4 separate regions of the Homo sapiens genome follow, and regions 1, 2 and 4 are each linked to region 3. The links come from fine-mapping of genetic effects on gene expression. A gene starts in region 3. Each other region holds a variant in brackets. All regions are shown on one strand. Distances are from middle to middle.

Evidence for each region. PIP is the estimated chance that this variant, and not a neighbour inherited with it, causes the effect.
Region 1: its variant is the best candidate, but not a certain one, in a credible set for the expression of MSL3 in whole blood (TOPMed, PIP 0.86).
Region 2: its variant is the best candidate, but not a certain one, in a credible set for the expression of MSL3 in blood mononuclear cells (TOPMed, PIP 0.72).
Region 4: its variant is the best candidate, but not a certain one, in a credible set for the expression of MSL3 in whole blood (TOPMed, PIP 0.56).

Annotation. Positions count from the first base shown.
Region 1 is chrX:11,702,342-11,707,490 of GRCh38, reverse strand. It overlaps the pseudogene LIMK2P1. Among named protein-coding and RNA genes, the nearest start is that of ARHGAP6, 39 kb to the right of the region's middle. RefSeq lists enhancers at 2,339-2,840, 2,857-3,356. The variant T/C (reference allele first, on the strand shown) is at 3,083.
Region 2 is chrX:11,780,316-11,785,464 of GRCh38, reverse strand. No RefSeq gene overlaps it. Among named protein-coding and RNA genes, the nearest start is that of MSL3, 25 kb to the right of the region's middle. The variant C/T (reference allele first, on the strand shown) is at 2,714.
Region 3 is chrX:11,755,675-11,760,823 of GRCh38, reverse strand. It overlaps MSL3 (MSL complex subunit 3), which reads right to left and starts at 2,587. Exons shown (of 13, transcript NM_078629.4): 1 at 2,459-2,587; 2 at 949-1,031; 3 at 326-421. The coding sequence starts at 2,560. It overlaps MSL3-DT (MSL3 divergent transcript), which reads left to right and starts at 2,741. Exons shown (of 2, transcript XR_007068393.1): 1 at 2,741-4,072. RefSeq lists an enhancer at 2,140-2,434 and silencers at 2,288-2,667, 2,678-2,827, 2,848-3,047.
Region 4 is chrX:11,718,740-11,723,888 of GRCh38, reverse strand. No RefSeq gene overlaps it. Among named protein-coding and RNA genes, the nearest start is that of MSL3-DT, 37 kb to the left of the region's middle. The variant A/G (reference allele first, on the strand shown) is at 3,050.

The sequences.
Region 1 (5,149 bases), 53 kb after region 3:
TTCTTTGACTCGGAAAGGGAACTCCCTGACCCCTTGCGCTTCCCAGGTGAGGCAATGCCTCGCCCTGCTTCGGCTCGCGCACGGTGCGCACACACACTCGCCTGCGCCCACTGTCTGGCACTCCCTAGTGAGATGAACCCGGTACCTCAGATGGAAATGCAGAAATCACCGTCTTCTGCGTCGCTCACGCTGGGAGCTGTAGACCGGAGCTGTTCCTATTCGGCCATCTTGGCTCCTCCCCCCCTTATTGTTATTTTTGAATAGTTCTTTGATTTACTTGGTTCAAAAGGCAAAATACACGAAACATTATTCCTCAAGAAGTTTTACTCCTATGAATATTTATTCTTATTTTCCACCTTTTCTTTACAAAAGGTGGTGTTCTATATATATAAATATACACACACATTGTTCAGTGCCTTGGATTTTTCACTCAACAATATTACCTGGACATCTTCCCACATTGGAACTTAAGAGAACTTCTTAGTCCTTGGATTTGCAGTTGCATGGTATTCCACTAGTGGAAGTAAGACAACTTATCGAATCAGTCCCCTGAATCATCTGATTTTTAAAATATGAAGATATAATTAAATAGAATTTTGAAATGTCAGTGGATAAAGAATACACACACAACTCACATGTACATCTGGTTTGAAATATTTTGGCTTATGGAATGATCAGAGAAAAGAAATTTGTTACTTATAGGCTCCAAGATAATAATTTATAAAAGAAATCCTGTAAAAACTAATTTTGAATCAAAATGCATAGCAGTTATAGAAAAGAAGAAAATCAATGTGCATAGAGCCATTATGTTCTAATATTTTAAACAAGGATATGTTTCTTATTAGAGTTTATTAAAGCTCGAATTATGTAATGGTGGCTATTCTGTAACTTTACGTTTAAAAGTAAAATAACTAAAGCCTTTTGTGTTAGCAAATTAATTTTTTGAAATTTTATTCATTTATCCTGGGTTGATGTCAAGATTTCAAAAACAAAAGCAACATACTTTCATTGATTGTAGCAAAGCAGAAACATAATTAAATATCAGATTAAAGCTCAAACCATGAAAAATGATCTAATGTTTTCCTTTCACATTTATTAGGAAAACAATCAAAACCCTTTTCTAATATTAAAGTTATTTTTTGAAGTCTTACTCAAAGGAATCCTAGATTAATCATAGATTTAAAAATCCGCCCATTCGTGCCTGGGGTTGAGGTCCTCCCTCGCCTAGGCAGAGGTGGGAGCTTATTGGTGCTGCTGCGGCCCTGCTTCCTCCTCCCCGTTTCTATGCTCCTGGGACCATGTCTGCACTGGTGGGTGCTAGAGCCAGGAGAGACTTTTGAGATAATGTACAATCTCCTCATTTTACATATGAAGAAACTGGGGCTTAGGGAAGAAAATGAAGTTGTCCAGGTCACTCAACTAGTGGTAATGCCAGGACCAAGGTGAAGATGCCTGGAGGTGTCAGGGCTGTGGGGACCACATAAAGCACCTCAAGTGAGCATGTGCACAACTTCAGTAAACACACTGTGCATGCAGCCCCTCCCAAGTGTTAGCAGCCCACTGCGCATGCGGACAGCCCACCCCAAGGGACGAATCAGGGGAGACAAGATGCAGACCCCAGAAGAATGCCAACATGTAAAACCCCAAGTCAAAGGTCAAACTGCACACTTGATCTCTGAAGTCTCCTGCTTGGCCCTCTTCCAAGTGTGCTTTACTTCCTTTCATTCCTGCTCTAAAGCTTTTTAATAAACTTTCATTCCTGCTCTGAAACTTGCCTTGGTCTCTCACTCTCTCTTATGCCCCTCAGTCGAATTCTTTCTTCTGAGGAGGAAGAATTGAGGTTGCTGCAGACCCATGCAGATTTGCTGCTGCTAATAGGGAGTTCAAGTACCATCCAGAATGCTTTGCCTGTGTGAGCTATAAGGTGACCATTGAGGATGGGGATGCATACGCCCTGGTGCTGCGTGTCACCCTATACTGTGGAAAGTGCCACAAATGAGGTGGTGCTGGCACCCATATTTGAGATACTCTCCACAGAGTCCATTCAGGACCAGCTGCCCTACTCTGTCATGCTCATGTCCATGCTGGCCATCACAGAGGGCAGGCGGAGCTTCTCCGTGTCCGTGGAGAATGCCTGCTCCAACTATGTTACCACCGTGCAAGTAAAAGAGGTCAACCAGATGCACATCAGTCCCAACAGCTGCAATGCCATCCACCCCAGGGACCACATCCTGGAGATCAGTGGAACCCCCACCCACACACTCCAAGTAGAGGAGTTGGAGGATGCAATTAGCCAGATGAGCCAGACACTTCTGCTGTTGATTGAACATGACCCTGTCTCCCGGTCCCCAGCCCAGCTGCGGCTGGATGCCTGGCTCTCTCCCCACACACAGAATGCTGGACACCCTCACGCCCTCAGCACCCTGGACACCAAGGATAATCTGGAGGGGACACTGAGAAGATGCTCCCTAAGACTCAGTAACAGCATCTCCAAGTCCCCTAGCCCTAGCTCTCCAAAGGAGCCCCTGCTGCTCAGCCGTGACATCAGCTGCTGGGAATCCCTTTGTTGTTCCAGCACTTACTCAAAGCAGAACTTCCGGTCCTGTGACCTGATCCACGGGGAGGTCCTGGGGAAGGGCTTCTTTGGGCAGGCTATCAAAGTGACACACAAAGCCACAGGCAAAGTGTTGGTCATGAAGGAATTAATGCGATGTGATGAGGAGAACCAGAAGACTTTTCTGACTGAAGTGAAAGTGACGTGAAGCCTGGACCACCCCAATGTGCTCAAGTTCATTGGCGTGCTGTACAAGGACAAGAAGCTGAACCTGCTGAGAGGACATTGAGGGGGGCATGCTGAAGGACCTTCTGCAAAGTGTGGACCCATTCCCCTGGCAGCAGGAAGTCAGCTTGGCCAAAGGCATTGCCTCCAGAATGGCCACCACCAAGAAATGTACTTTGCACAAGAACAACTTCAAGAAGTGCTACATGGTGGTGGGAAACCTCTACTGGATGATACCTGAGATGCTGAATGGAAAGAGCTATGACGAAATGTGGATGTATTCTCTTTTGGGATCGTTCTCTG[T/C]GAGACCATTGGGCAGGTGTATGCAGATCCCGATTTCCTTCCCCAAACACTGGACTTTGGCCTCAGCATGATGCTTTTCTGGGAGAAGTCTGTCCCCACAGACTGCCCTCCAACCTTCTTCCCCCTGGCCATGATCTACTGCAGACTGGAGCCCGAGAGCAGACTGGCATTCTCAAAACTGGAGGACTCTCTGTACCTGGGGGAGCTGGGCATCCCGCCGCCTGTAGGGCTGGAGGAGTTGGACCACACTGTGAGCATGCAGTACGGCCTGATCCAAGACTCACCCCACTAGCCCTGGCCCAGCCCCCTGCAGGGGGGTGTTCCACAGCCAGCATTGCTCCTCTGTTCTCCATCCCTGCTGTGAGCAGGGTTTTTCGGGCTTCCCGTGGATTGGCAGCTTGTTTAGAAGCAGAACAAGCCGGCAGGGTGCGGTGGCTCACGCCTGTAAGCCATCACTTTGGGAGGCCGAGGCAGGCGGATCACCTGAGTTCAGGTGTTGGGGACCACCCTGACCAATATGGAGAAACCCCATCTCTACTAGAAATACAAAAAAATAGCTGGGTGTGGCGGCACATGCCTGTAATCCCAGCTACTCAGGAGGCTGAAGCAGGAGAATTGCTTGAACCCGGGAGGTGGAGGTTGCAGTGAGCCGAGATCGTGCCATTGTACTCCAGTCTGGGCAACAAGAGCAAAACTCCGTCTCAAAACGCAAACAAAAAAGAAGCAGAACAAGCCATCTCTTCTATCTCCCCAGGAGACGAATGGATGCAGCACCAGGAAAATGTATCTCCACAGGTTTGAGGGCCTGGTTACTGTCTGCAAATCCAGCACTCACCTGAAAGCTGTGAAGAAGACAAAAAAAAAAGCCCGGCCTTTGGGCCAGGAGGAAATCTGTTACTCGGATCCACCCAGGAGCTTCTAGGTCACGCTGATTAGTGTAATCTCTTACAATAATCAGCGTGACCTGGACTTGCTAGGCAGGATCCCAGGGTGAACCTGCCTGTGAACTCTGAAGTCTATAGTCCAGCTGGGTGCAGGAGGGCAAGTGGGAGTGTGGATGAAGGAAAGAATGGTGGCCAGAAGAAACTCAAAGGGTGTGAAAAGACAGTGGTGCTCCCCACTTCCACTCTGGGTCCTGCCCTTCCTGGAGCAGAGGTCGAGGGAGTAGGTTTTGAAGAGTTTTGGTGTGTGGCACAACTGGCCAGGAGTCAAGAAAAGGGCTGGCTTCTGTTCACCTGCCAGAGGGTGACTCTAGCCAGCCCAGGGACAACATCAATGTGAGGGGAAGCTTCTACCTCATGTTTTCAAACCTAATTACCGGAGACTGGCTGAGAACTTATGGGCAACAACCTGTCTGTTTGCAACAGTCACCTTCAAGCAGAGGAAGAAGCTGGGGGACTAGAAAGAAAGAGGCCCTGCCCTCTAGAAAGCCCAGATCCTGGCTTTTGTTACTCATGCCCTGGTGGACTCCTCAGTCAGAAGCCTAAGACATTTTGCCTAGAGCTAGATGGGTTCTGGAGGACAGTGTGGCTTGTCACAGGCCTAGGGGCTCAGGCAAGGGAGTGAGAGTGTCAGCAATCTCTTGGCCTTGGCCTTGGCCTTGTGGCAGCCACTGTTCACCCTTCAACATGCCTGGTTTAGGCAGCAGCTTGGGCTAGGAAGAGGTGGTGGCAGAGTCCCAAAGCTGAGATGCTGAGAGATACACCTCCCCAAGCTGGGCCAGCTGACTTCTACCTCCCTCATTGGCTGTCCCACCTCACTAGTTCCTGGCTGCAGCTGCCTGAGCCACAGCTGCCTGAGCCACAGCTGCGGGTACTGGAAAGCTCTGAGGTGACCCTCCACCTAGGCTCCCAGAGCTCCAGGGACTCTTTGGCTCAACTAGATTTGCATCCTCCTAACTGTGAGCTTGCACCATATTTAACAAATTGAGAATAGGTTTGGGGTATTAATGCAATGTGTGGCCGTTGTATTGGAGTGGTGTGTTGCGGGGAGGGGAGTGATCCAGGAAAGTGGTTGTTGTTAATATTATCTTGTCATTACATCTATTGGGTGGTGTGTGAAATATCG
Region 2 (5,149 bases), 25 kb before region 3:
GCTCTTATCGTCTGCAGGTTAACTGGGATTTGTTCACATCTCAGCAAGTTTCCAAGGGAAAGAATGGAAGGGAGTGACTTCTGCCATATTGCCTTGGCTAAAGCAAGTTATAAGACCAGACTTTTCTTTGCCCTTTTCAAGAGCAAAGAAAATAGACCCCACTTCTTTATTAGAGGAACTTCAAACTCACATTTCACAGGTTAGGAAAGGGAGTAGTGGTGGTGGTGGTGTTAGGTGTGTAAAGATTTAGAAACATTTTTAAATCCATCTATCACACCATGGCTTCTTGTGGACCACCAAATTAACTAAGAGTCCCTGATTGGTTATATTTCACATGCTACAGAATATAAAAGACAAGATGAAATATCATATATCAGAAGAAAATCTTACTAGGTTTTCCCTCCAATAGAGTGTTTTCGGTTTTCAGACTTTGTTTTGTATACTGCCCAAGCACGTTTAAACAGCCTTTATCCTCTGACACTAATAGGTGTGTTTCTATGCAGCTCACAAATCATCTCACCCAAAATTATTTTCTGGATACTAATGGACGACTAATAGAGGCTGGTGACCTGAAATTGTCTCAAAAGTCACCTTTACAATAGTGAAGATTGAGCAGTAAATAGAGCCTGCAGGCTGGTGTAATTTACCTTGTGCCAAGCCATATCTCCAAAATGGCTTATTAAATCATCCCACTGAGAGTTGTAAATCTAAGTGGGAAAAGTACAAATCAATAGAAAAACATAGTCAAGCACTTTACTACCTATGATTTTCATGATCCTCTGGAAGGATGAAGATTGATGTTGCAAAGAAATTCCAAAACATGGAAGACTTGTAAAGATTAACTGGCTCTGGTTTGCTTTAGTCTTAACAATTCATTTTATTCTTGCTGTCACTAACCTCTGTGAATTAACCTTTTTTGCTTATATCACAGTATCAGTATATACTTATTCCTTATGCCCTATCTTGCTAAGCAGGAGAATCAGAAAGCCAAAAAGTTTGAAGATCTGTCAACCCCATATTTGCTTACAAAGGAAGCTGTATAAAGGCACAGGTTTTCTGACCTTCAGAGGAGGTATGAACTCAGAGGAATGACAAGAGGAACCTTGGCCTGTTTTAAGCAGTGATGCTTGAAAGAAGCCTCACTGGAGTATTGGAATAAGTAGCCTTTCAGCTCTCAAAAATGGGTTTTCATAGTGTATTTTCCTTGAGTTTTAGGCACAGCCAATTTTTAGAGACCCCTTTCTAAAAAGTGAGATATAATTCCCTGTTTTAATCTATTCTCACATTGCTATAAAGAAATACCTGAAACTGTAATTTATAAAGAAAAGAAGTTTATTTGGCTCATGGTTCTGTAGTCTGTACAGGAAGCATAACACCTTCTGTTTCTGGAGAGGCCTCAGGAAGCTTTCAATCATGGCAGAAGGCAAAGGGGGAGCAGGCTTCTTACATGGTAGGAGCAGGAGCAAGAGAGAGAGGTGGGAGGTGCTACACACTTTTAAACAACCAGATCTTACGATAACTCACTCACTATCACAAGATCAGCACCAGGAGAGTGGTTCTAAACCATTCATGAAGGATGACCCCCATGATCCAATTACCTCCCATCAGGCCCCGCCTCCAACATTGGGGATTACAGTTCAACATGAGATTAGGCAAGGACACAAATCCAAACCATATCATTCACATACCATAAAATTTACCCTTTAAATGCTGACAATTCGGTGGTTTTTAGTATATTCAGAGTGGTATAATGATCACTACTGATTCCAAAAATATCCATCACCCCCCAAAAAAAGCTCATATCTATTAGCAGTTAGTCTCAATTCCCTCCTCTCCCTATCCTCTGACAACCACTAATCTACTTTCTAGCCCCATGGATTTGCCTATTCTGAACATTTCATGTAAGTGGAATCATACAATATGAGGCCCTTGTTTCTGGCTTCTCTGGGATCCTTTTTGATGAATGAAAGAGCACATGAACCTGATGTTCCTGACTCTCAGAGTGTCCTTGCTCTTTCTCTGCCTGCCTGGAGGCCTGTTTCAGCCTGGCAACCCATTTCCACAGAAGCTCAAAAGCACAAATCCAGCTCCTCAAGCATTAAGCGAATGTCTGACATTTGAGCAGCAATGAAGGGCAGGCTCACAAAGCACATCACCCAGCAAAAATGCCCCTGCCCCGTTTTCAATACTTCTCTTTTTTCTGAAACAAATCCTTCTTTACTTTTCTTTTCCTTTCCTCCTCAGAAATCTCTGCCACCCCCTTGAGCCACAGCTTAACCTCCTCCCCAGATGCTTCTCCAAACTCTTCCTTTTGGTATCTCACTTAACAGCCAGAAGCACGGGCTCATCGTGGGCGAGACCACACCACACCTTGCCCCCCAAGGGCCTCCTGGGGGCACTCCATTTGTCTCATCACACACACATTCCAGAACAGGACCCCCTTCAGGTTTTGTGGGGCCTCAAGTTTCTGTAATCGTGGTGGCCCTCTTTGAGAAATAAAGCACACAATTATGCCTACAAAACTGAGGGCTTGGAATAGGTGCACACAAGCAAATGAGGAGCCCTGAAGTTTCAGCTTCACCAGCTCCACGGTCATTCTACCTCTGCTCCAAAGCCAACACCATGGATTGTTGGAACATCTGAGTAATGCAAATGTTTCCTGGCCTCACAGGCCAGGACTCTGTGATAGGCAGAATAACAGCCACCAAAAACA[C/T]CCACATCCAAATCCCCAGGATCTGTGAATATGTTACCTCACATGGCAAAAAGAACTTTGCAGATGTGATTAAGACTAAGGACCTAGAGATGAGGACATTATCTGCATGGGCCCAATTTAATCATAGGAGTCTTCATCAGCAGAGATGCTTTCCTGGCTGTGGTCAGAGAATCAAAGAAATGGCAGCGTGAGAAGGACTCAGCCAAAACTTGCTGGCTTTGAAGATGGAGAAAGAAGCTACTAGCCAAGGAATGCAGGAAGCCTCGAGAAGCTTGAAATGGCAAGGAAACATAGTCTCCCCTAGGGCCTCCAGAAGAAACACAGCCCTCTGACACTTTGATCTTCACCTAATGAGACCTGTATTATATTTCTGATGCCCAGAACTGTATGCTAATAAATGTGTGTTGTCTCAAGTCACTAAATTTGTGATTATCTGTTACAGCAGCAGTAGAAAATTAATATGGACTCCAAAGTGTTGAAAGTGTTGTAATCTGAGCATAAGTGAAAAAGACGCTTATCTTCCTACAAACCTGCCCTAACAGGAACCAAACCCTTAAAACAGGTCCCTCTGTTTATCTGGGAGTCATCACAAACCAGTTGGCTAGCTGTGGTCACCATGCAGTCTGCCAAGTTCTTCCTCCCTAACTGCCTTAGGAGATCCTTGGAAGAGGAGGAGGAGGTGAGGGAGCAGAAAGGGAGTAAGTAGGAGGATAGTGAAGAGCTGATTTGAAAGCTCCCTGAAAGAGACTTGCCTCCCTCCACATGATGATAGGGCCGTGGCGAGAGTATCAGTGCTGCATGCACCTTGGGCTACCTCCAGATGGCCCCAAGCTTTAGTTCTCATGGAGTCAGAGAAGTGTGAAGCTTGTGTCCCCTCTGTCATCTGGGCCCCAGACAGCTCTGTTCAAGTCTACAAGTACTCTTGTGAGGTCTCCCCAGCATCTGGCCTTCTGCCTTTGCCCAGAGGTGCAGGAAGTCCCTTAGGAAACAATTGCTTGGTTTTAGGCCCTCAGGCTTCTATTGCTAGGGACTCGAGCCCTTCATGGCAGCAGACAGCTCCTCCTCTCCATCCTCCTCCTCCCTCTCTTCTGCACTGGCCTCCCCAAAAGCCCCTCCTCCCAAAAACCAGCTGGAAATGATCTCCTGCATTTCAACACATGAGCAAGCCCATGAGGTGGCTGTCCAGGCCAGCAGCCTTTGGGCCCTGCTTGGTCAACCAAAAGGCTTTGGAAACTGGAGGAGGGCACAGCAGAGAGAATTAATTCTTACTCCCTGCCACATTTAGACTCCCATATGAGTACATAGCTTTTTTGTCTTTTTCATGCTTTTTGCTGTGGACAGGTCTCCTTGCCGCAAGCCAAGTAAAGAATCTGCCACAGAGTTATACAGCAGCAAGCCCAGACATGATATAGAAACTCAGCCCTCAAGACCTAGTGTTAAGGGCCACCTGCACCTGGGTGTGCTTTCTTCTGTCCCATTGGGGTCCATGGTGTTGAATACACCACACTTGAGAGGCCACCAGAGTTTGAAGGCTGTTGTGACTGGCGTGTTTTGAAGCTAGTGCTTGGAAAGGTGGCCAGGAACACACTGAAGGGTCCCTGAGAGCCCAAAGTGCTGGAAGAGACTCTGGCTCTTGACTTGGTTTTTTGGGGAATAAAGTCTAAGTCCAAAGTTGTTTGTAATCAGCACTTTAAAGATATTTGTCAGCCCTGTCTTTTGCATCTGGGGTTGCTGATAAGAAATCCCATGTTCTGGCCTAGCACGGTGGCTCACACCTGTAATCTCAGCATGTTGGGAGGCCAAGGCAGGCGGATCACTTGAGGTCAGGAGTTCGAGACCAGCCTGGCCAACATGGTGAAACCCCCATCTCTACTAAAATACAAAAATTAGCCAGGCATGGTGGCAGGCCTGTAATACCAGCTACTCGGGAAGCTGAGGCAGGAAAATCACTTGAACTCAGTTCGAGGCCAACCTGGACAACATAGCAAGCCCTCATCTCCACAAAAAATTTTAAAAAGAAATTAGCCTGATGTTGTGGTGCACAGGTGTAGTCCCAGCTACTCAGGAGGCTGAGGTGGGAGGATCACTTGAGCTGGGGAGATGATGGCTGCAGTGTCACGCCACGGCTCTCCAGCCTGGGTGACAGAGCAAGACTGTCAGAAAGAAAGAGAGAGAGAGACAGAGGGGAAGGAAGGAAGGAGGGAAGGAAGGAAGGAAGGAAGAAGGAAGGAAGGAGGGAAGGAAAGAAGGAAAGAAGAAATCCCATGTTCTACTCAGTCCATACTATCTTCCCCGGTGACCTTAGCCAATCTCAGAATTTACCACCTATGTTCTGGTGACTTCACAGACTATATTTCCCACCCAGTTCTTCCTCCTGAGGTACAACTTCCATCTCATATAAGTCTCAAAACATTCTGTCTCCTCTCCTCATCCCAA
Region 3 (5,149 bases):
GCAAACAACTGAAATAAGTTTTGACATTGAACTCGTGAGTCTTGAGATCAAAACAAGATATAATAAACAATGAAATACATTTGAAAAATTATTAAACTTTAGAACATAAATGGTAATTTCCATTTCAGAAAATTATACAATAACCACTCTGAAAACACTGTTATTTAGAATACCATAGGAACACTCTTCCCCTTACACACTTTAAATATTTAAAATTATTTAATAAATGATATTTGTCATTGTATTACTTTTATATCATAAAAATCTAAAACACTAAGAGAAAACACATTGGATAACATTTATATCTTGATTTTTGTATTCTTACAGGCGAGCTACAGCTTTTCTTGCCAATTTACGCTGTAATCTACGATTTTCATCGGTATCACGAAGCACATGATCTTCTGCTGCCCATCTATCCCAGCTAATTGAACAAAAAAGGAAAATTCAGTACTTTAGTTTGATATGAAACAACGACTAAAAGTACCTCAAAGCAATAGAAATGCCCCAGAATTACATTTTTAGAAAACGATTTAAATATTTTAAAATCACAAAGAGGAGGCAAATAAACTGAAAAAGTAACTCATTCAGACACAGAAACAACTGGGGTTTCCAGAATCACCCAGACAGAATCCAAATACAATCGACTTAAAAGTAACTATTCGTCACAATAGGCAAGTTCTGGTAACAAAGTAAAAACAGGAAATGAATCAAACTTCTCTACAAGTGTTTCTAAAACTTAAAGAAGTTTGCAACGCTACAAAGTAAAGACAGGAAATGAAACAAACTTCTCTACAAGTGTTTCAAAAACTTAAAGAAGTTTGCAATGCTACAAAGTAAAAGCAGGAAATGAAACAAACTTCTCTACAAGTGTTTCTGAAACTTAAGTCTGCAATGTTTCTATGCAGCAAAGACAATCAATTTTCAGTCTGGTTTAACAAGTTCACTCACCTTCTGTTCCAACCATTAAAATGGATCAGATATTCTGGGATCTTTCTGCCTTTTTCGTCTTTCCCAACAATAACATCAACAATCTGAAACGAAGAAATATTTCCCACAAATGGCAGAACATACAGAAAATTAGAAGTTAGATCAGGAAAACTAATTCACAGACCCTTTTTTAAAGAAAGCATTCTCTCCTCTTTTAGACCGACAGCCGGGTTGAAATATTTTTCCTTTCATTTTTTTCCCCCAAGTGGACGCCTTCAAAATAGGAAACATCCGTCCAACCACCCCGTGATTGGTCTCTGAGCGTGAGACAGTGTGAGGCTTCTGAAGCCATTGGCCAGCCGATTTGTCACTAAGGAGAGACTCCAGGCTAGATGAAAGCTGCAGCCCTGAGAGCTCTGGGAGTTGTAGTCTCCTGGGCTCCCCTATGTCCAGTGCCAGGATGGCTAGCTGGAGACTCTGGAATCCCTCCCTGTTGTGTCCCTAGAGGGAACAACTAAAACTAATGATGGGGCGTGCCCCCCCCCCTCCGCCCCGAGGAGGCTGGAGGGCGAGGAGAAAGAGGGATAGCAGACGCGGTTAAAAGACAGGAGCAGCAGGGGAGGGAACTGAAGGCAGAATATGCTCATCCCTTTAGGGATGTCCTTTAGCATCTCTAATGGACAGAGCTGTCCAGACATCGCCAAAGACACACCTGGGACTGCCCCTGTCCCTGCCGCCTAAGGCTTCGCCCAGGTGGCCCTAGGAACCCAGGTCTCTGAAATGAAAGCACCTGGGTGCTTTCCTTGGGGATCTGGGAGACCTGGTGCCAACTCCTGCCCGCCACCCAAATCTGAGGAGCTGCAAGATGTGGCTCAGCTCCCGGAGACTTAGGTGGACCGGCCCGGGGCGCGATTCCCATCAACTATGGTCAGACCCACGTAAATCCTTCAGAGTTTGAAAACGTAAATGCTGCAAGGCCCTGGGGTACGAAAACACTGGGCCAACCTTGCCCTCGGGATGGGGTTCACGGCCTACAGGCGGGATGGGGCCTAAACTGGACTAGGGTCCCAGGGACACAACGTCGCAAGTCAGCGGCCAGCGCCGTGTAACTATGAATTAGAACCTGGATCGGACGGCCAGGGCGTCCCACAGGAGCCCACCCGGCACCAGGCCGCACAGAAGGAGACATTTAACGCGAAGACAGAAACCGTATTCGAGAAGCCTCCTCCCTCAGCGGCCACCGTTGCAGTCGGGGGCGCAAACGGTAGCCCCGGTAACGCGACAAAGCATGGGCGAGGCTCCCAACCGCGCGTGCGCCGCCCGGCCTGACGGAAGGAAGTGGAAGCATCCCAGACCCCGCCCCGACTCCCGGGCGTAGCGCCCTGTGAGCGCCCCCTGCCGGCCGCACCGCTCCTCGCAGGCCGAGGAGCCCGGCCGGTCCCTCAGCTCCGCGCGGCCGTCCGCCCCCGCCCCCGCCCCCGGTCCCGGGTCCCCCAGCCCGCGCCTCCTCCCTGTCCCTCCGCGGCGGCACCTTGGCATCGTACAGCACTCGCGCCTTGGTGGGGTCAGGCTCGAAGCACAGCACTTTCTCCCCTGAGTGGAATTTAAATTTCATGCCCTCGCTCGCGCTCATTTGCTCATCGTGGCGGAGGGCGAGGCTCCGGGGCGGGCGGAGCGCGCGCGGTGGGGGAGGGCGGGCGGGGGCGGGGAGGCGGTGCGCCGTGGCCGGGGGGGGCCGGGAATGGCGGAGGCTGCGGCCGCCCCGCCCTCGGCCCCTCCTCCGCCCGCCCCGAGCCGCTGCCGGGACCTCGGAGGCGCCTGGCGCGCGCGCTCCCGCCCGGGCGCGTCCCCGCACGTCCCCGCCGGGGCTCCGGGAGGGGTGCGGGCGGGGAGCGCGACCCCCTGGCCAAGGTCTACCGGCAGGACGTCTCCCGTCGCCCCCATGGGAGAGGGTCCCCGCGGCCTCCAGGCTGCGCCCACGTGCGCGCAGGGTCGTCCGTCGCCCCGAGCGCCCGCTCTCCGGCCCGGGCGTGGGAGGCGCCTAGGGAGAGAGAGAGCCGGTCTGGAGTAGGCACCCGGCGGCCGGGAGGCTGGACGGCGTCTGCCCCCAAGAGCTCCCTGGCCGTGCGCGCCGCGTCAGCCCCCTTGGCAGAGCAGCGCGCCGATGAGTGTGGCCACGCTTGGAGAACGCAGCGCTGGAGCTGGCCCCAGGCGGGCAGTGGCCTCGGGCGAGGGCAGAAGGGCACTCCGGGCTGTGAATAGAACACTTGCTTATCCCTTCAGAGGACAAGCCGGTGGCAGGCCTGGAGCCCCCAGTGACGGGTTGAGCAGTGGGCAGCGAGGCAGATGGGTCCTTAAAGAGTAGCTGACGTCTTCAGTGTCAGCTTCTAGCGTGGCCTGACAGCCCCCAGCATCCCCGGAATGCCCCCCACGGTCTATCTGCTCCAATAGACTAAAAATTCCCTAAATAGAAGCACCCTTGAGGCCGCTATCAATATGGTACCTGCACAGAGTGGATGTTAAGTAAATACTTGATGAGCGAATGACAAGTGATGGGAGACTTGAAGGACAAACTTCCAGGGACAGGAAGGACAGTGCTGGGCTTTTTCTTTTGAGTTTTGGAAAGCCGTTGGGCAGTGTAATTACTGGATTAGGACCGGGCTGGAGACCAGCTTCCAGGCTAATCTCTGCGGACCTGGTGAACTTCCCCTTCTCTGTTCTAGCCTCCAGAAAGTTGCATTTGCTTCCCCTCTGCACGCTTCCTTCACCAGGTTCCTGGTATACATCCTTCACATTTCAGCGTGGGCATGCCAACAGAAAAGCCCTCAGGCTTCCCAAGATGAATCATAAAGCCCTGAGGTGTTCCCTCCCAGGACTCTGCTTAACCCCTTTCTTGCATGTACCACTGTGCTATAGAATGGGTTGTTCATTTGCAAAATGACCTCATTAAGACAGTAAGCTCTTTGAAGCTGGGGGTAGGGGTCTTATCCAATTCATCACGGCGTATTCGTGGCACATAATATGGAATGAATGAACAGATTGATTTAGGAAATAGAACCCACAAAACTCAGTGGCCAATTGGATGTGAAGGAGAGGGAAGGAGGAATCTTGAGAGACTTCCAGGTTTTCTGGCCCAAGGAATTGGGTGAGTAATAGCTGCATCCGCCAGAATAAGGCTATACAGAGGAGTTAAAGGTTGGGGGAAGATGGTCAAATGGCCTTTGGGGTAATACGGTGCAGAAACTAGAACTGGAACCATGATTCCTCTCCAGGTTGTGGTGTATCAGAGATGAGAACAGTAGATGGTGGTGTTCCCCACAAATGGCAGGGGCGGCTTGGAAGCACATGTAATTGCACGTCCTGTGTAAACCGTAACTGAAGTATTCACCTTTTTATTTTTCCTGCCCATGATTGGAGAGAGTTCTGCTGCAGGCTCTACCCTTTCAGGGATAGGATTTTAGATGCTTTCCTTTGTTTCTCCGCATTTCCACCCCTTCTTATGTCATTGAGGAATTCCTCTTTCCCCGTCCCTCTAAAAAGTCCAAGAATGCAAAAGCCTTCAGGAACCTAAAAGTTAAAAAGCCTGCCAATGGCAGCACCCCTTACAGTCCTCCTCCAGATTAGGATCCACTAGAGAGGGCTCCACCCTTAATGCAGGACATCATTTTTCCTCTCGGGTGTAAAGGTTAAGAACATGGCCAGCTCTGCAAACCACTCTCCAGGACCCAGTCCCATGCTTGTCACTTTCTAGCTTGTGACCATGGACAACTGGTTAGTCTCTTTGTAATGCACTTTGTTCATGTTTAAAATGAAGGAAATAGTGGCTCCTACTTCATAGGGTTTTTTAGGAGTCAATGAGTCAATTCAGTGTACATGGCTTTGTGTAGTGCCTGACATATAAGGGCTGGGTAAATATTTGCTCTTGACATTAGGCATTTCTTATCTGTTTCTCCGTGTCCCCCATTCATTCATTCATTCATTCAGCAAATATTTATTGGACCTCCTGTGTGCTGGTTGCTAGACACACAAAGTAGAATACATACATTACCCCTGTCCTCCCAGAGGGCACATTTCAGGAGGGCGGAGCAGCAAGCAATCAAGTTCAAGCTTTATGTGCATACCCTGATAAAGCTGGTGTGGAATAGAGGAGACAGAAGAGCTTACTTCTCTCTAGGAGGAGGGAGAGTATCTGAAAAAGCTCCAGAGAGGAAGGCACTCTTGA
Region 4 (5,149 bases), 37 kb after region 3:
GCCATGCTAGACCCACCTGATGCCAGACTTAGGTCCGCTTAGGTGAGGTGGGCGAGGCTGACCTGGTAGCCTGAATGTTGAAGTTTCTGTAGCTCTTTAAGAAGAGGAAGTCAGGGAAGACATGTCCTAGTGGTCTTTTTTCTTTTATGATCTTCTTGTGGAGCCCTTGTCTTAATTCACTGATTTAAAGCATTACATCATCTGGCAGTCACACCTGTAGTCCCAGCACTTTGGGAGGCCGAGGGGGGCAGATCTCTTGTGCCCAGGGGTTCGAGACCAGGCTGGGCAACATGGCAAATTCCCATCTCTACAAAAATAAAAAAATAAATAAGTAAATAATAAAGCAGTACATCCATTCTGAAAACTAACCTCTCTTTATAAAGTGAAGGGTAAGTGCAAAAACTTCTATATCTCACACATACTGATTCTCTTAAGTGCCTTCTCCTTTCTTTTCCAAGCGTAATCTTCAAAGCAGCTTCCACAACATGGACAAACCCTATAACAGCCTGGTCTGAGGCATTTTTAGGTGATTTTTGTTTGCAGGACCCTAGATTTTCTATCTTAGAACCACTATGACGAACTTATACATGTGCTCAATAAGTGGTTGCTCAATAAGTGATTCTTTCATTAAATGAAAGAATCAAATGAAGAATAAAATTTTCTCTTAAAAGGAACAAAATCCAATTTTTGATGGCTCCATGCACTTTCTGCATCATTTCCTTCAGCAGCATAGAGAATGGAGAAGTGTACAAAACCTCACTTGGTTAAAAACTCCTATGTCTTTATTTCCAGTCTTGTCCTCTCTTTAAGTCTTCAGTTGCCTGCTAGATGTTTCTACATACATGCCAAAGACTACAGCAGAACTAAGCTCACCATCGTCTTCCAACATCTCCTAGAATCATCACCATTTTTCTAGTCAAGCATGCACAAAAACTTGGGGTCCTCTTTACTTGTCTGCTTTTTCTCATCCACTATCTTGCTGGCTTTGTGCTGTATTAACTTAACTCAGCTAAGCCTAGGTTTCACAGCATCCCCTTTGCCATTTGATTCCAGGCAATATTGGCCACCCAGGACATTTTGTGTGCAACTTGGAAATTGGAATTGAAGCAGAAGTCATATATTGTACACTCTGAAGGTTTGAGCAGGGCTTCTGCACATTGTCACTGATCTGCTGACATGAGATCTGCTGACATGAGGCCAGCACCTGCACCACAGCTCCGCCAGCTCCTTCTGATGTCCCCCTCAGCTTCCCCAAGGCCTGGGCCAGGTGTGCAGACAGCTGGCTCTGTTGCGATGGGCATCAGTGTCATGAACGGTGTCAAGCTTTCCTTTCAGATTCCTCATCTTTGTAAATTGCTTCACCAACTCCCACAATTGCATCAGCCTTATCCACTATAAATGCATCCGTTATCCATTCCTCTCTCTTTGTCTACTTCTGCTGCCATAGCAAGATACCTCAAATTGGGTAGCTTAAACAACAGAAATTTATTTCTCACAGTTCTGGAGGCTGGAAATCCAAGATCAGGGTGCCAGCAGGGTCAGGTTCTGGTGAGGGCCCTCTTCCTGGCTTTCGGACAGCCACCTTCTCACTGTGTCCACACGTGGTAGAGGGCAGAGAGTGCAAGTTCTCTGGTGCCCCTTCTTATAAGGACAATCATCCTATCATGAGGCGCACACCCTCATGACCTCATTTAAACCTACTCACCTCCCAAAGATCCCACATCCAAATACCATCGCATTGGGGGTTGGGGCTTCAACATACGAATTTGGGGGGTAACAATTCAATCCATCGCACTCTCCTAGCAGTTTTCTTTCCCTCATTGAACCCTGATGGTTACAGCTCTTGTCATTACTCAGGAAGTCCTACAAGATGTTGCAATTTTGTCTACCTGCTTCTTCTTCTTTTTTTTTTTTTTTTTTTGAGATGGAGTCTTGCTCTGTCGCCTAGGCTGGAGTGCAGTGGCGCGATCTCGGCTCACTGCAAGCTCCACCTCCTGGGTTCATGCCATTCTCCTGCCTCAGCCTCCCGAGTAGCTGGGACTACAGGTGCCTGCCACCACGCCTGGCTAAATTTTTTTGTATTTTTAGTAGAGACGGGGTTTCACCGTGTTAGCCAGGATGGTCTCGATCTCCTGACCTCGTGATCTGCCCGCCTCGGCCTCCCAAAGTACCTGCTTCTTGTTTCAACTGCCTTTGCCACCACTCCAGTTCAGAGCCTCTCCCCTGGATGTGGATCTCTGCAGGAGCTTTTTGGATCAGCCACTACCCCTAGTTTCAGGGGCCACTAATCCATCTCGCTCCTGCTGAATCATTCTGGTCTCAAAAACCTCAGTGTCTCTCTGTCTCACCAAATTCAGTTCAAATGTCTTTGTTTTTCAAGGAATTTCTTTTTTTTAAACCTATACCTTCTTATTTATTTGTTAATACACACATGTGGCAAGTTCCTTGGAATCTCTGTGCCTCAGTTTCCTTAGGCATAAAATGGGACATATTAATGGTGTCCACCCCAGAGGGTTGTTGTGAGTGTTAAATGAGTTAACTTATGTGAAGCATCTAGAAGACTGTCTGTCTGCCTCTTAAAAAGTCCTCTGTAAGAGTTAGCTATTAGTATGAGCCATTATTATTCCCATGGCATAGCCTCTGAACTAGACCATGGATGCTCCAGGCTCTGCTTTCGTGTCTTTTTTGTTTGTTTGTTTGAAACAGGGTCTCACTCTATCCCCCAGGCTGGACTGCAGTGGCATGATGTCAGCTTACTGCGCCTCCCGGTTTCGAGTAATTCTCCTGCCTCAGCCTTCCAAGTAGCTGGGACTACAGGCACGTGCCACCATGCCCAGCTAATTTTTGTATTTTTAGCAGAGATGAGGTTTTGCAACGTTAGCCAGGCTGGTCTGGAACTCCTGACCTCAGGTGATCCACCCAACTCGGCCTCCCAAAATCCTCCCTGGGATTACAGATGTGAGCCACCACACCCGGCCTTTGTGTCTATGCTCATGTTGAGCAACCATGCCACCTCAAAAGATAAAATGACATCTATCAAGAATAAGCA[A/G]TTAAGATAGAGGAAAGACTACTAGAACATACGTTGGGTCTGTGCTGGACTTGTCAGACATACTAACCTGGAAAGTGCAAAGTTCCCTCCTATTGGGCCACACCCCATCCACAGTGCCTTGAAGGAGAATCTGTGACAGCCTGTTCTTAGCATGAGGTAGCCACCTGGGTGGGGGTAGGGTGGCCCAAGAACAAAGAGTGGAGTTTCCATAGCTTGGGGAGACCCCTGAGGTGGCCTGGTGTAAAGGCTTTGCCCAATGCGGTGGTGGAAACTCACTAGGCTGGTGAGACTAGCTCCCAGTGGAATCTGGATAGAAGAATACAGTGTGCATTAGCCAGTCAGAACATGGGGAATCATGGAACACACGGAAGGAAGCAGAGATGTCCATGAGGGAGATGTCAGAGGAGCCATGGAAGACGAGAGGGAAGTGTCCTAAAAGCAGCCTGGGGGCCTAGACAGAAGAACATTTCTGCCCCAATATTGTTTATTGCTTCTTATAATAACTCCTCCTTTTCCAAAGGCCTTCTTAGAACCCCAAGAGGCTAAATCCAGAGGGCCATTTTTGAGGAGTTCAAGAAACAGAGGATGGAGAAAGACACATACACTGAGAGGTAACTGTCTCTCTGAGAGAGTTTGAATGAGGCTGATGGAGTCATGACTAAAGGGCTGTATTTGTCCAACCAGCCCCACTCCCCATTGCCCCACCATCAGCCAGGCTTCCTTTGGCAAATATAAAGTAGAGATATGTAAGAGTCAAAGGTAGGCAGGACACAGGGCCTGGGAAGTGTTGGTGTGACGGTTTTGTCCTCCATGTTGGTACTGGATTGCTGTATTGGTTTCTAAGCGCAGCTGTAACAAGACACTACAGACTGGGTGGCTTTAAAGCAACAGATATTTATTGTCTCACAGTTTTAGAGGCCAGAAGTCTGAGATGAAGGTGTTGGCAGGGCCATGCTCCTTCCGAAGCACCTAGGGGAGACCCCTTCCTTGACTCTTTCAGCCTCTGGTGTTGCTGGCAGTCCTTGGCATTCCTTGGCTTGTAGGGCATCACTCCAATCTCTGCCTCTGTCATCACATGGCTCTCTTCTCACTGTGTCTCTCCCTTTTTTATAGGGACATCAGTCATATTGGATTAAGAGCCCTTCCTACTCCAGTCGACTTCATCTTAACTAGTGACATCTGCAACCACCCTGTTTCCAAATAAGGTCACATTCTGAGGTACTGCAGCTTAGCAATTCAACATATTTTGTTGCGGGACAAAATCCAATCCATAACAATGGCTAAGTTTCTTTTTTTCAAATTATTTTGAGTTATAAAGGTTCATTCATGATGGCAAGATGCAGGATGCCATCTGTCCACTGATAATTGTCTGCCCTTTCGATCATGTGCTGTGGTCATGGTGAGGCAGCTGCCCCACCCAGCATTACCTTTTCCAGCTGCCTTTGCTTCCAGTTGTAACCACATGACTAGTTCTCACCACTGATGTGTGGATAGAGTTGAGGTTTGTCAGTTCAGTTTAAGTCTTCAAAGACACTGGTACCTTTTCTATTCTCTTTTCCTGAGGCAGAGGACTTGAGGCATTAGGGGATAGCAGAACTCCATGGAGGATAACTGCCTGCCCAGTGACCGAAAATATTCAAATTGTTTTTTTATGGAAGTGAGAATTAAGCTCCTGTCTTGTTTAATTTAGCCATTGAACTTAAGTGGTTTACTTGTTATAGCCACCCGCAGCAACCTGTTTCATTCAAAAGACCCAATTGTTTTTCCTTTCATCATTTTCTCACAGAAGTTGATATTCTGCTAAATCCTCCTTTAAATTCCAATATGATTTTAAACTAATCGTGAAGGAAAGCAAAAACATATTATATCATCCTAACTTTGGACAAGCTATAGGGATAGACAGATATTATATACCATATTTCCTACGAAGTAAAAAGTCCTTACGTAGTACAGATATATCAGTTATATTAGTAACTTCCTTTTGAAAAACTAATTTTTTGCTTAATTTTCTATTGCTATTGATAATGCCGTAACCCATGGTCTTTATACTACACAAATAAGGAGAAGCTAAGGGTGATAGAGGATGTAATGTGTTCTTCT